Linked DNA regions of Homo sapiens: region 1 is linked to region 2. Evidence: fine-mapped expression QTL. A gene starts in region 2. The other region holds a variant in brackets. All regions are shown on one strand. Distances are between the middles of the regions. Region 1 overlaps PTK7 (protein tyrosine kinase 7 (inactive)). Region 2 holds the start of PEX6 (peroxisomal biogenesis factor 6).

Region 1 (4,386 bases), 110 kb after region 2:
TCTATGGGTGAAGCTGTCTGAGGAGGCATGGAATGCAGGAAGAAGACAAGATGGAGAAACGTGAATCAGATGAAGTATGAAAGACACCATTTGGTAAAGTGCTAAGTAGAATAGAAGAACATTCTAGAATGTGTGGGATGGTAAGTCTGAGATGTAGGAGCAAATAGGGGGTGGGAGGGCTTCAGAGAGGAGAGAAGACCCTACATTGCTGAATAGATGTAGTCAGTGACGGCCTCAGAATGATGAATAGATGTAGTCAGTGACGGCCTCAGAATGATGTAAAGTCATCGGACCAGGATTCTGAAAACCTGGGTGGTACTGTTCTAATATCACATGGCAGCCACAAGTGATGAAGTAATAGAAGAGACATCTATAGACCTGTGACACCAGTTTTTCTGTATTCTGGTCCTGGCTCAATTGCTGCATACCCACATGACCCTGAGCTGGTTAGTTAACCTTTCTGAGCCTCAGTTTCCTCGTGAGCACAATGCAAGTGATGCTGTTGCCTGCCTTGCTGGCCCCTGTGAAGTTGTGATATAATGCTCTTCAACTGTGGAAATGGGTGACCCCTGGGAAGCAGCCCCTCTGGCTAGCCCTGATGGTTCTTCCCAGAGACTGTCCTGGCCAGCCGTTTCCTTTTGAGGGGTCAGCCTTTCTTTTTTGAGATGGAGTTTCTCTCTGTCGCCCAGGCTGGAGTGCAGTAGTGCGATCTCCACCTCCCGGGTTCGCGCCATTCTCCTCCCTCAGCCTCCCGAGTAGCTGGGATTATAGGTGCCCGCCACCATGCCCGGCTAATTTTTGTATTTTCAGTAGAGACGGAGTTTCACCATATTGGTCAGGCTGGTCTTGAACTTCTGACCTCGTGATCCACCTGCCTCAGCCTCCCAAAGTGCTGGGATTACAGGCATAAGCCACTGTGCCTGGCCAGAGGTGTCAGCCTTTATTTCCAGCCTTCGGACCCTAGAATGGTTTGCCAAAGGCTCAACAAAGTCCCTCTTGACTAGCAGCCTTAGAAATGGTTTTCTCATTTGGGCTGGGTGCGGTGGCTCACGCCTGTAATCCCAGCACTTTGGGAGGCTGAGGCATGTGGATCACCTGAGGTCGGGAGTTCGAGACCAGCCTGACCAAAATGCAGAAACCCCATCTCTAGTAAAAATATAAAATTAGCCGGGTGTGGTGGCGCATGCCCGTAATCCCAGCTACTCAGGAGGCTGAGGCAGGAGAATCGCTTGAACCCGGGAGGCCGAGGTTGTGGTGAGCTGAGATTGCGCCACTGCACTCCAGCCTGGGCAACAAGAGCGAAACTCTGTCTCAAAAAAAAAAAAAAAAAAAAACATGGCTTCCTCATTCAAAAGCACAAGTTTTCTAAATGGGTCTCAGTATTCCAACAGCAGCCCAGAAATGTGGGAGCCACACACAGCCACATTTTCCTGGTGGGAATTCTCCCTCTCTCTTTGTCTCAATAGCAGATTCTCCCAAGGGGTGGGTTGGTGCTGGTTCAGGGCCACTGTCTCTCCTGGCATGCTGAGGTTCTCAGGGAGTGGGTAGTGAACTGTGCTTCAGGCAGCCTAGGCAGACTTTTATGATACCCAAGGGAGGGGTTTTTATAATCACTGGATGACTGTGGGGGTTTCCCCAGTCAGCGACTCTGTTAATTTGTGGGAACTTCTGTCTGTGCTGTGGGGAGGTTCCTGAGATTCTGTGTGGCCAAGGGCAGTGGGCTCTCCCTGGGGGTGGTTATGGGGGCCCGCATGGGCACTATCATGTACAACCTCCCCTCCAGGAGACACTCTGGCTTTTTTTTTTTTTTGTCTCCTCCTTGGGGTGGTGGCGGGGCAATGAGGGGAACGCTTGTCTGCTTTGGGACTGCTGAGGTGTCCCAGCAGCTAGCTCGTATGGTACCTTTGTGCACATTACAAATAAGTACTCCCAGT[C/T]GTGGGCGCAGTGGCTTACGCCTGTAATCCCAGCACTTGGGAGGCAGAGGCAAGTGGATCACTTGAGCTCAGGAGTTTGAGACCAGCCTAGGCAACAAGATGAAACCCTGTCTTTACAAAAAATACAAAAAAACTAGCTGGGTGTGGTGGTGCACGCCTGTAGTCTCAGCTACTCAAAGGCTGAGGCAGGAGGATTGCTTGAGCCTGGGAGGTCAGAGCTGAAGTGGGTGAGCTGTGATGTGATTGCACCACTGCACTCCAGCCTGGGCACCTGAGCGAGACCCTATCTCAAAAAAACAAAAAAACAACAACAAAAAAACCCTTCCTCCAGGTAGATGCAGTCCTGCACCAGGGTTCAGGCAGTATTTCAGTGTTGACTCTTTGGTCAGACATCTTGAGCAGTGCACAACCTGTACAGTCAAAGGTGGCTGTTCCATTGGCATGAAGGCCTTGCAGCTGTGGCTCTTTGTTTCCCAGCTGATGGGCCAAGATGATTTTGATGCCTCTGTTCTAAAGTCATGTTTCAAGTGAGCCCTCTTCACTACTGTTCTGCCTCCTATGGTGGTGGGATGGGGCAATCCTGCCTGTAACATACAATAGGAGAAGCCGGTGAGGGTGGAGCCCCATTACTGTACCCACCCCACATTGTATATCTGTGGCTGCTGAAGTCTTGACCTATTTCTGGGCCCCTTCCCTGTGAGAGGATTTTGCTGTCTTGCAGATACAGGCTCCTAGCCTTATGTGATAATTGGTGTGGAAGGCTGGCAGAATCCTTGGGAAGAGTGGGCCGCAGAGTTTATTTCACATTTTATTTAGGAGCTTTCAGTTTTCCTTTCTCTTGTTTCCTCTCTCCCTGGGGACACTAGGGTCTCCAGGTAAAGTGTGTGGGCATTCCTGATTTAGAGGAATTCCTGCAAGAGAAGTGGCAGGACCTCAGTCCCAAAGGCAGGTCTTGGGTCTTGCTGAGCTCCAGCGCTGGGTATCCTGGTGATGTTCATACCTCTTGAGCCTGAGGAAGCACCAGGAGGAGCACTAGGGTCAGTGTTGGAAGACATGGACTCTCCTTCCACATTTGCCTAAAACTGCCTGTGTGACCATGGGCAGGTCCCATCCTCTTCTCCAGGCTTCAACTTCAGAACAGAAGACCTTGGAGGGCCCTTGCTGAGGCTCACTCAGTGTGGCATCTCCAGCCTTGTTTCTGCCACACCTTACAGGCTCTCCTTACCCTGGGTTTAGGGAGAGCACTTTAATCTAAGGGCTGCTTTTTATTCTGGAGTCTCTAGTGCGTGGGCACAGATGTGTTTAGACTTGACCAACTGGTGATGTGGGTATTAGGGTATAATTTTCTGGGTGCAAAGGGTGCTGTAAAGATTTAGGAGGGAGAGTATTTGACAGGGAAAGAAACTGAGGCACAAAAGTACGATCTGCCTAGCACTACAGAGCTGGTGAGGAATAGGGCTGAAGCCAGTGTGGTGGTTCACACCTGTAATCCTAGCACTTTGGGAGGCCAAGGCGTGAGGATTGCTTGAGCCCAGGAATTTGAGACTAGCCTGGGGAACATAGCGAGACCCCATCTCTACGGAATAGAAAATAAAAGAAAAATTAGACAGCAGCGGTGGCACGTGCCTGTGATCCCAGCTACTTGGGAGGCTGAGGTGGGAGGATCACTTGAACCTGGGAGGTCAAGGCTACAGTGAGCCAAGATTGCACCACTGCACTCCAGCCTGGGCAACAGTGAGAGACCTTGTCTCAAAAAACAAAGGTAGAAAGCTGAGACCAGAGTGCCAGTCCCTCCTGTGCCTTCACTTAGAGTCCTTGTATGTCCAGGTGTTACTGTGCTATGATATGCTGCACACGTGGCCAATTGCCGTGGCTCATACCTGTAATCCCAGCACTTTGGGAGGCCGAGGCGGGTGGATCATGAGGTCAGGAGTTCAAGACCAGCCTGACCAACATGGTGAAACCCAGTCTCCACTAAAAACACAAAATAAGCCAGCTGTGGTGGTGCATGCCTGTAATCCCAGCTACTCGGGAGGCTGAGGCAGGAGAATGGCTTGAGCCTGGGAGGCAGAGGTTGCAGTGAGTTGAGATCATGCTACTGCATTCCAACCTGGGTGAGAGTGAGACGCCATCTCAAAATAAATAAATAAATAAATAAATAAATAAATAAATAAATAAAGAGTTATGGTGAAACTATATGTAATCTAAAAGGCTAGAACACTGTGCCTAAATCCCGATGGCTTGAGCTTTTCTCATGAACCCATGAGTCCTTAGCCTCCTCCTCCTGGTGCTGCTGGAAGGTCACAGGCAGTTGCAGGCCCTGGCTTGTAGGTGCATTCCAGACTATTGCTTCCTGCTGGGAGATGTATGCTGAGCAGTGCTGTGGTGGAGACCACGTAGGAGGTAATAGAGTCATCCCCATAGTGGTTAATAGAGTTAGCCACCTCATACT
Region 2 (4,386 bases):
CCTCAGCCTCCCAAGTAGCTGGGATTACAGGCATGCACCACCACACCCAAACTTCACCTTTCACCTGAATGGATGAAAGCCTTTTGTATGCCCCACTACATTATGGAGGCTTATGATATTTTGATTACAGAATATGGATCAATAGGCCGGGTGAGGTGGCTCACGCCTGTAATCCCAACACTTTGGGTGGATCACCTGAGGTCAGGAGTTCGAGACCAGCCTGACCAATACGGTGAAACCCCGTCTCTACTAAAAATTACAAAAATTAGCCGGGCGTCGTGGCGCGAGCCAGTAGTAGGAGGCTGAGACAGGAGAATCGCTTGAACCTGGGAGGCGGAGGTTGCAGTAAGCCGAGATCGCATCACCACATTCCAGCCTGGGTGACAGAGCAAGACCCCATCTCAAAAAAAAAAAAAAAAAAAAAAAAAGGAAAGAAAGAAAAAGAAAATAGATAAATGAGGCTAAGAAACATTATGCTTTTTTTTTTTTTTTTTTGAGACAGAGTTTCACTCTTATCGCCCAGGCTGGAGTCCAATGGCGCGATCTTGGCTCACCGCAACCTCCGCCTCCCAGGTTCAAGCGATTCTCCTGCTTCAGCCTCCCAAGTAGCTGGGATTAGAGGCATGCACCACCACGCCCGGCTAATTTTACATTTTTTTAGTAGAGACGGGGTTTCTCCATGTTGGTCAGGCTGGTCTCGAACTCCCGACCCCAAGTGATCCGCTCGCCTCGGCCTCCCAAAGTGCTGGGATTACAGGCGTGAGTCACCGCGCCCGGCTAGAAACATTATGTTCAAAGTCCGGGATGATATGGGGCACGAGTCCTAAATCTTCCAATTTACCTAAGACAGAGAAGAGGGTATAAGAAAGAGGAAGCACTCCTGACCCCAGTCCTTTATCCTACCTGAATTCTGAGCTCTCCCATTTCCAGGGGGTCACAGCCAAGATTAAAAGCCAAAGTGGCAGGGACAAGCGCCAGTCCGTCAGCGAGGGGCTCTCCCAGCGGTCCAGAGCCGGGTCCCAGTCTATCAGAGAGGTCCCAGCGAGGTTCTAGGACCTGCACCCTAGCCAAGTGCGGCTGTGAAGTGTTCGATGACTCTCTGGCCTGGGCCACCCACACCCATTCGCCCTGGAAGAGGCCAAGGCCACGGAGACAGCTCCGGCTCACCCCTAGTGAATCTCCAGTCCCTCCCAGAACTCCCTGGAGTCGCCGCACTGTGCCAGAAACCGCAAAGGAGGACACCACGGGCGGGGGTGGGGGCCGACTGCTGTCCCCAGACTCTGGACACAGTCTGGCCCGCCCGCGGAGCTCAGTCACAGCCAGCCGAGTCCCTGGGCCCAGCAGCCCTTGCAACGCCGGCCGCGTCTCCAGCACCCGCGGTCCGGGCACTGGGAGGGTCTCTCCGCGCCTCACCAGCAGCGGCCCGACTCGCGGTCCGAGCCCAGGCCCCAGCGAGGTGCCAAGCAGTGCCCAACCTAGCGCCGGGGGCCGCCGCACCGCCCGCGCCCGCACCCAGGCCCCGGAGCCCAGTGCCAGGAGCCGCAGCAGCGCGCGGCTAACCAGTAGCTGCGGCGGCCCGGGACCCTGCTCTTCGGTGCCCGCGTCCGGCCCCTCCAGGGCTGCCACCAGCAGCGCCGGCCCTGCCGGGCTCTCCCCTGCAGGCCTCAGGGCCAGCACCAGGCCCAGCTCCGCCGCCGGCCACGGGCCCCCGGGTGGCAGCAGCACTGCCAACGGGGGTGTCTCGGTCGGAAAGGGCTCCAGGACCCGCAAGACAGCCAGCGCCATGGTGACAGGACACCAACGAGGAGGGTGAAGGAGCGCAGCTTCCGGAGCCAGAGAGCCAGACGACTAGTGTGCGCGAGGGCCGCTTCCGCTTCCGTCAGGGGAGGCCAGAGGAAAAGGGGAGGGGGGTCGGGTGCCGCGAACTTGCTCTGAGGGGGTTAGCTGCGCCTCGGATTGATCTGCGTCGTGCCTCGATAGGCAGTAACCTTCATCGCTGCGGTTGCGTAGCGTTTACCCATGCGCCATTTGAACTTGTGCTTAAGGGATTTATCTTTGCCTTCTACGGAAGTAATGTTCTCTTAACTATTTTTCCCCGTGGCATGAACGTAACAGTTTATTGACTGATAAATGAACAGTCAGCATGCTCGGGATGACTGGGCCCAGTACTGGGAGCTCTAGGTGAAATGTTTCGGAAGGAGTCCGCTCCTCTGCGGAGCTCCTGCAGCTTCCCCTGTGGAACTGTGAGCACTGAGGTTTGAGGGTTGCAGGAAAGGTTGCAGGAGGGAGTAGCAGGATTAGAAAACTGTCTCACACTTGCTTATAGGTATATAGTGGCTGCTGAGTGAATTACTAGATGTGATTCATACAGCCCTGGAGTGCTTGGTGCCACCACACATGTTCCAGCACATCTGGCACAAAACCCATGTTCCAGGACTTCTTGCCCTGTTCATTGTTCTGTTTGTTTTACTCCCACCAAACTTAAGTTGAAGACAAAACAGCTTTTCTTTCACCCCCCCCCCCCAAATCCTTGCAGATCGGAAACCCATTCACTTTCTATCCTAGAGCGGGGCAGGCAGCAGAGCAGGCAGAAGGAAAGGAGTTCAAGGCTTCTGTCAGCATAACACCAACAGTCGACTTCCTGCGTGTGCTGTTATTTAGATTCCATCCTTCTCTTCACCTCCACTGTTCTGTACAAGACACTCAGCTAGTGGTAGGCCACATTTCCTTTTTTATGGCAACAGGGTCCTACTCTGTCACCCAGGTTGGAGTACAGTGGCACGATCCCCATTCATTGCAGCTTCTACCGTCCCAGGCTCAAGTGATCTCCCACCTCAGCCTCCCGAGTAACTGTAGCCGGGACCACAGGCACACGCCACCATACCCAGCCAATTTTTTTTTTGAGACGGAGTTTCGGTCTTGTTGCCCAGGCCAGAGTGCAATGGCACGATCTCAGCTCACTGCAATCTCCGCTTCCCAGGTTCAAAGAATCTCCTGCCCCAGCCTCCCAAGTAGCTGAGATTACAGGTGTGTGCCACCACACCCAGCTAATGTTGTATTTTCAGTAGAGACGGGGTTTCACCCTGTTGGTCAGGCTGGTCTCGAACTCCTGGCTTCAAGTGAGCCACCTGCTTACGCCTCCCAAAGTGCTGGGATTACAGGCATGAGCCACTGCGCCTGGACTAATTTTTTATTTTTTGTAGAGACAGAGTTTCTCTGTGTTGCCTAGGCTGGTCTCAAACTCCTGGTCTGAAGAGATCCTCAGGCCTCAGCCTCCCAAAGTGCTGGGACTACAGGCATAAGCCATCATGTCCCACTGCATTTCCAATTATTAACAATTATTTTCACTTACAATAAATGAATTGGATGGTGCCAATCTCCATTTTCTAGACCTTACATTCTCTTTCAGCTACTGCTCAGCTTTCTCCATCTCTCCTTTCTTCTTGAGGCAGTCTTCTATTTTGTACATTATACATTCCTGAAAATTTGAAAGACAAATATATGAAAACTATTAGATTTGCATATTATAAGGGGCTGGGCGCAGTGGCTCATGGCTGTAATCCCAGCACTTTGGGAGGCCAAGTGGGTGGACTGCTTGAGGCCAGGAGTTTGAGACCAGCCTGGCCAACATGGTGAAACCCCGTCTCTACTAAAAATACAAAAATTAGCTGGGTATGGTGGTGTGTGCCTGTAGTCCCAGCTACTCGGGAGGCTGAGGCAGGAGAATGGCGTGAAGCCGGGAGACAGAGCTTGCAGTGAGCCGAGACTGCGCCACTGCACTCCAGCCTGGGTGACAGAGTGAGATTCCGTCTCAAAAAAATAAATAATAGAAAAAAATAAATAAAATAGCATGCAAGAATGTACTAACCAGGAACCATGGCTTGTGTCTATAATCCCAGCTATGGGGAGGCTGAGGCAGAAGGATCACTTGAACCCAGGAATTTGAGGCTATGATTGTGCCACTGCACTCCAAGTGGGTGACAGAGCAAGACCTTGTCTCTTAAAATATATAAAATTAAAAGAAAAAAAAACTAAATAAAGAATGTTCTAGGTACCTAGATTCACATGGATGAAAGTTCCCATTTGGTAGTGCTACTATATGTTTCTTGGTCCCCTATGTCCCAGAGGAACCAAGGGCTAGATAGATGGTACATGGGCCTAAAGAGGATATGCCTGCTTTCCTCAGTAGCAGGCAAGCTCTAGGCCTCAGGACTATAGTGCTCCTTGAGGCCTTGGAGATGGGTAAAAACATCAGTTATCTTGCCTGGATCAGCACTCATACAGACACAAATACCCACCCACAAATAAATGTCCTTTTCTCCCAAGCTTTTCTCCCAGCAGGTAACAGCGGGCATGTAGTCCACTTTGTGTTACCCTGAAATCGTC

Evidence for each region. PIP is the estimated chance that this variant, and not a neighbour inherited with it, causes the effect. A credible set is the group of variants that fine-mapping cannot tell apart.
Region 1: its variant is the best candidate, but not a certain one, in a credible set for the expression of PEX6 in whole blood (INTERVAL, PIP 0.80).

What each region holds. Positions count from the first base shown.
Region 1 is chr6:43,084,621-43,089,006 of GRCh38, forward strand. All of the region lies in intron 1 of PTK7 (protein tyrosine kinase 7 (inactive)), which reads left to right. Among named protein-coding and RNA genes, the nearest start is that of PTK7, 10 kb to the left of the region's middle. The variant C/T (reference allele first, on the strand shown) is at 1,935.
Region 2 is chr6:42,977,366-42,981,751 of GRCh38, forward strand. PEX6 (peroxisomal biogenesis factor 6) reads right to left here and starts at 1,816. Exons shown (of 17, transcript NM_000287.4): 1 at 904-1,816. The coding sequence starts at 1,785. It overlaps LOC124900215 (a long non-coding RNA gene), which reads right to left. Exons shown (of 2, transcript XR_007059580.1): 2 at 3,177-3,478. RefSeq lists enhancers at 1,076-2,017, 2,178-2,227 and silencers at 1,388-1,767, 2,422-2,618, 3,857-4,075.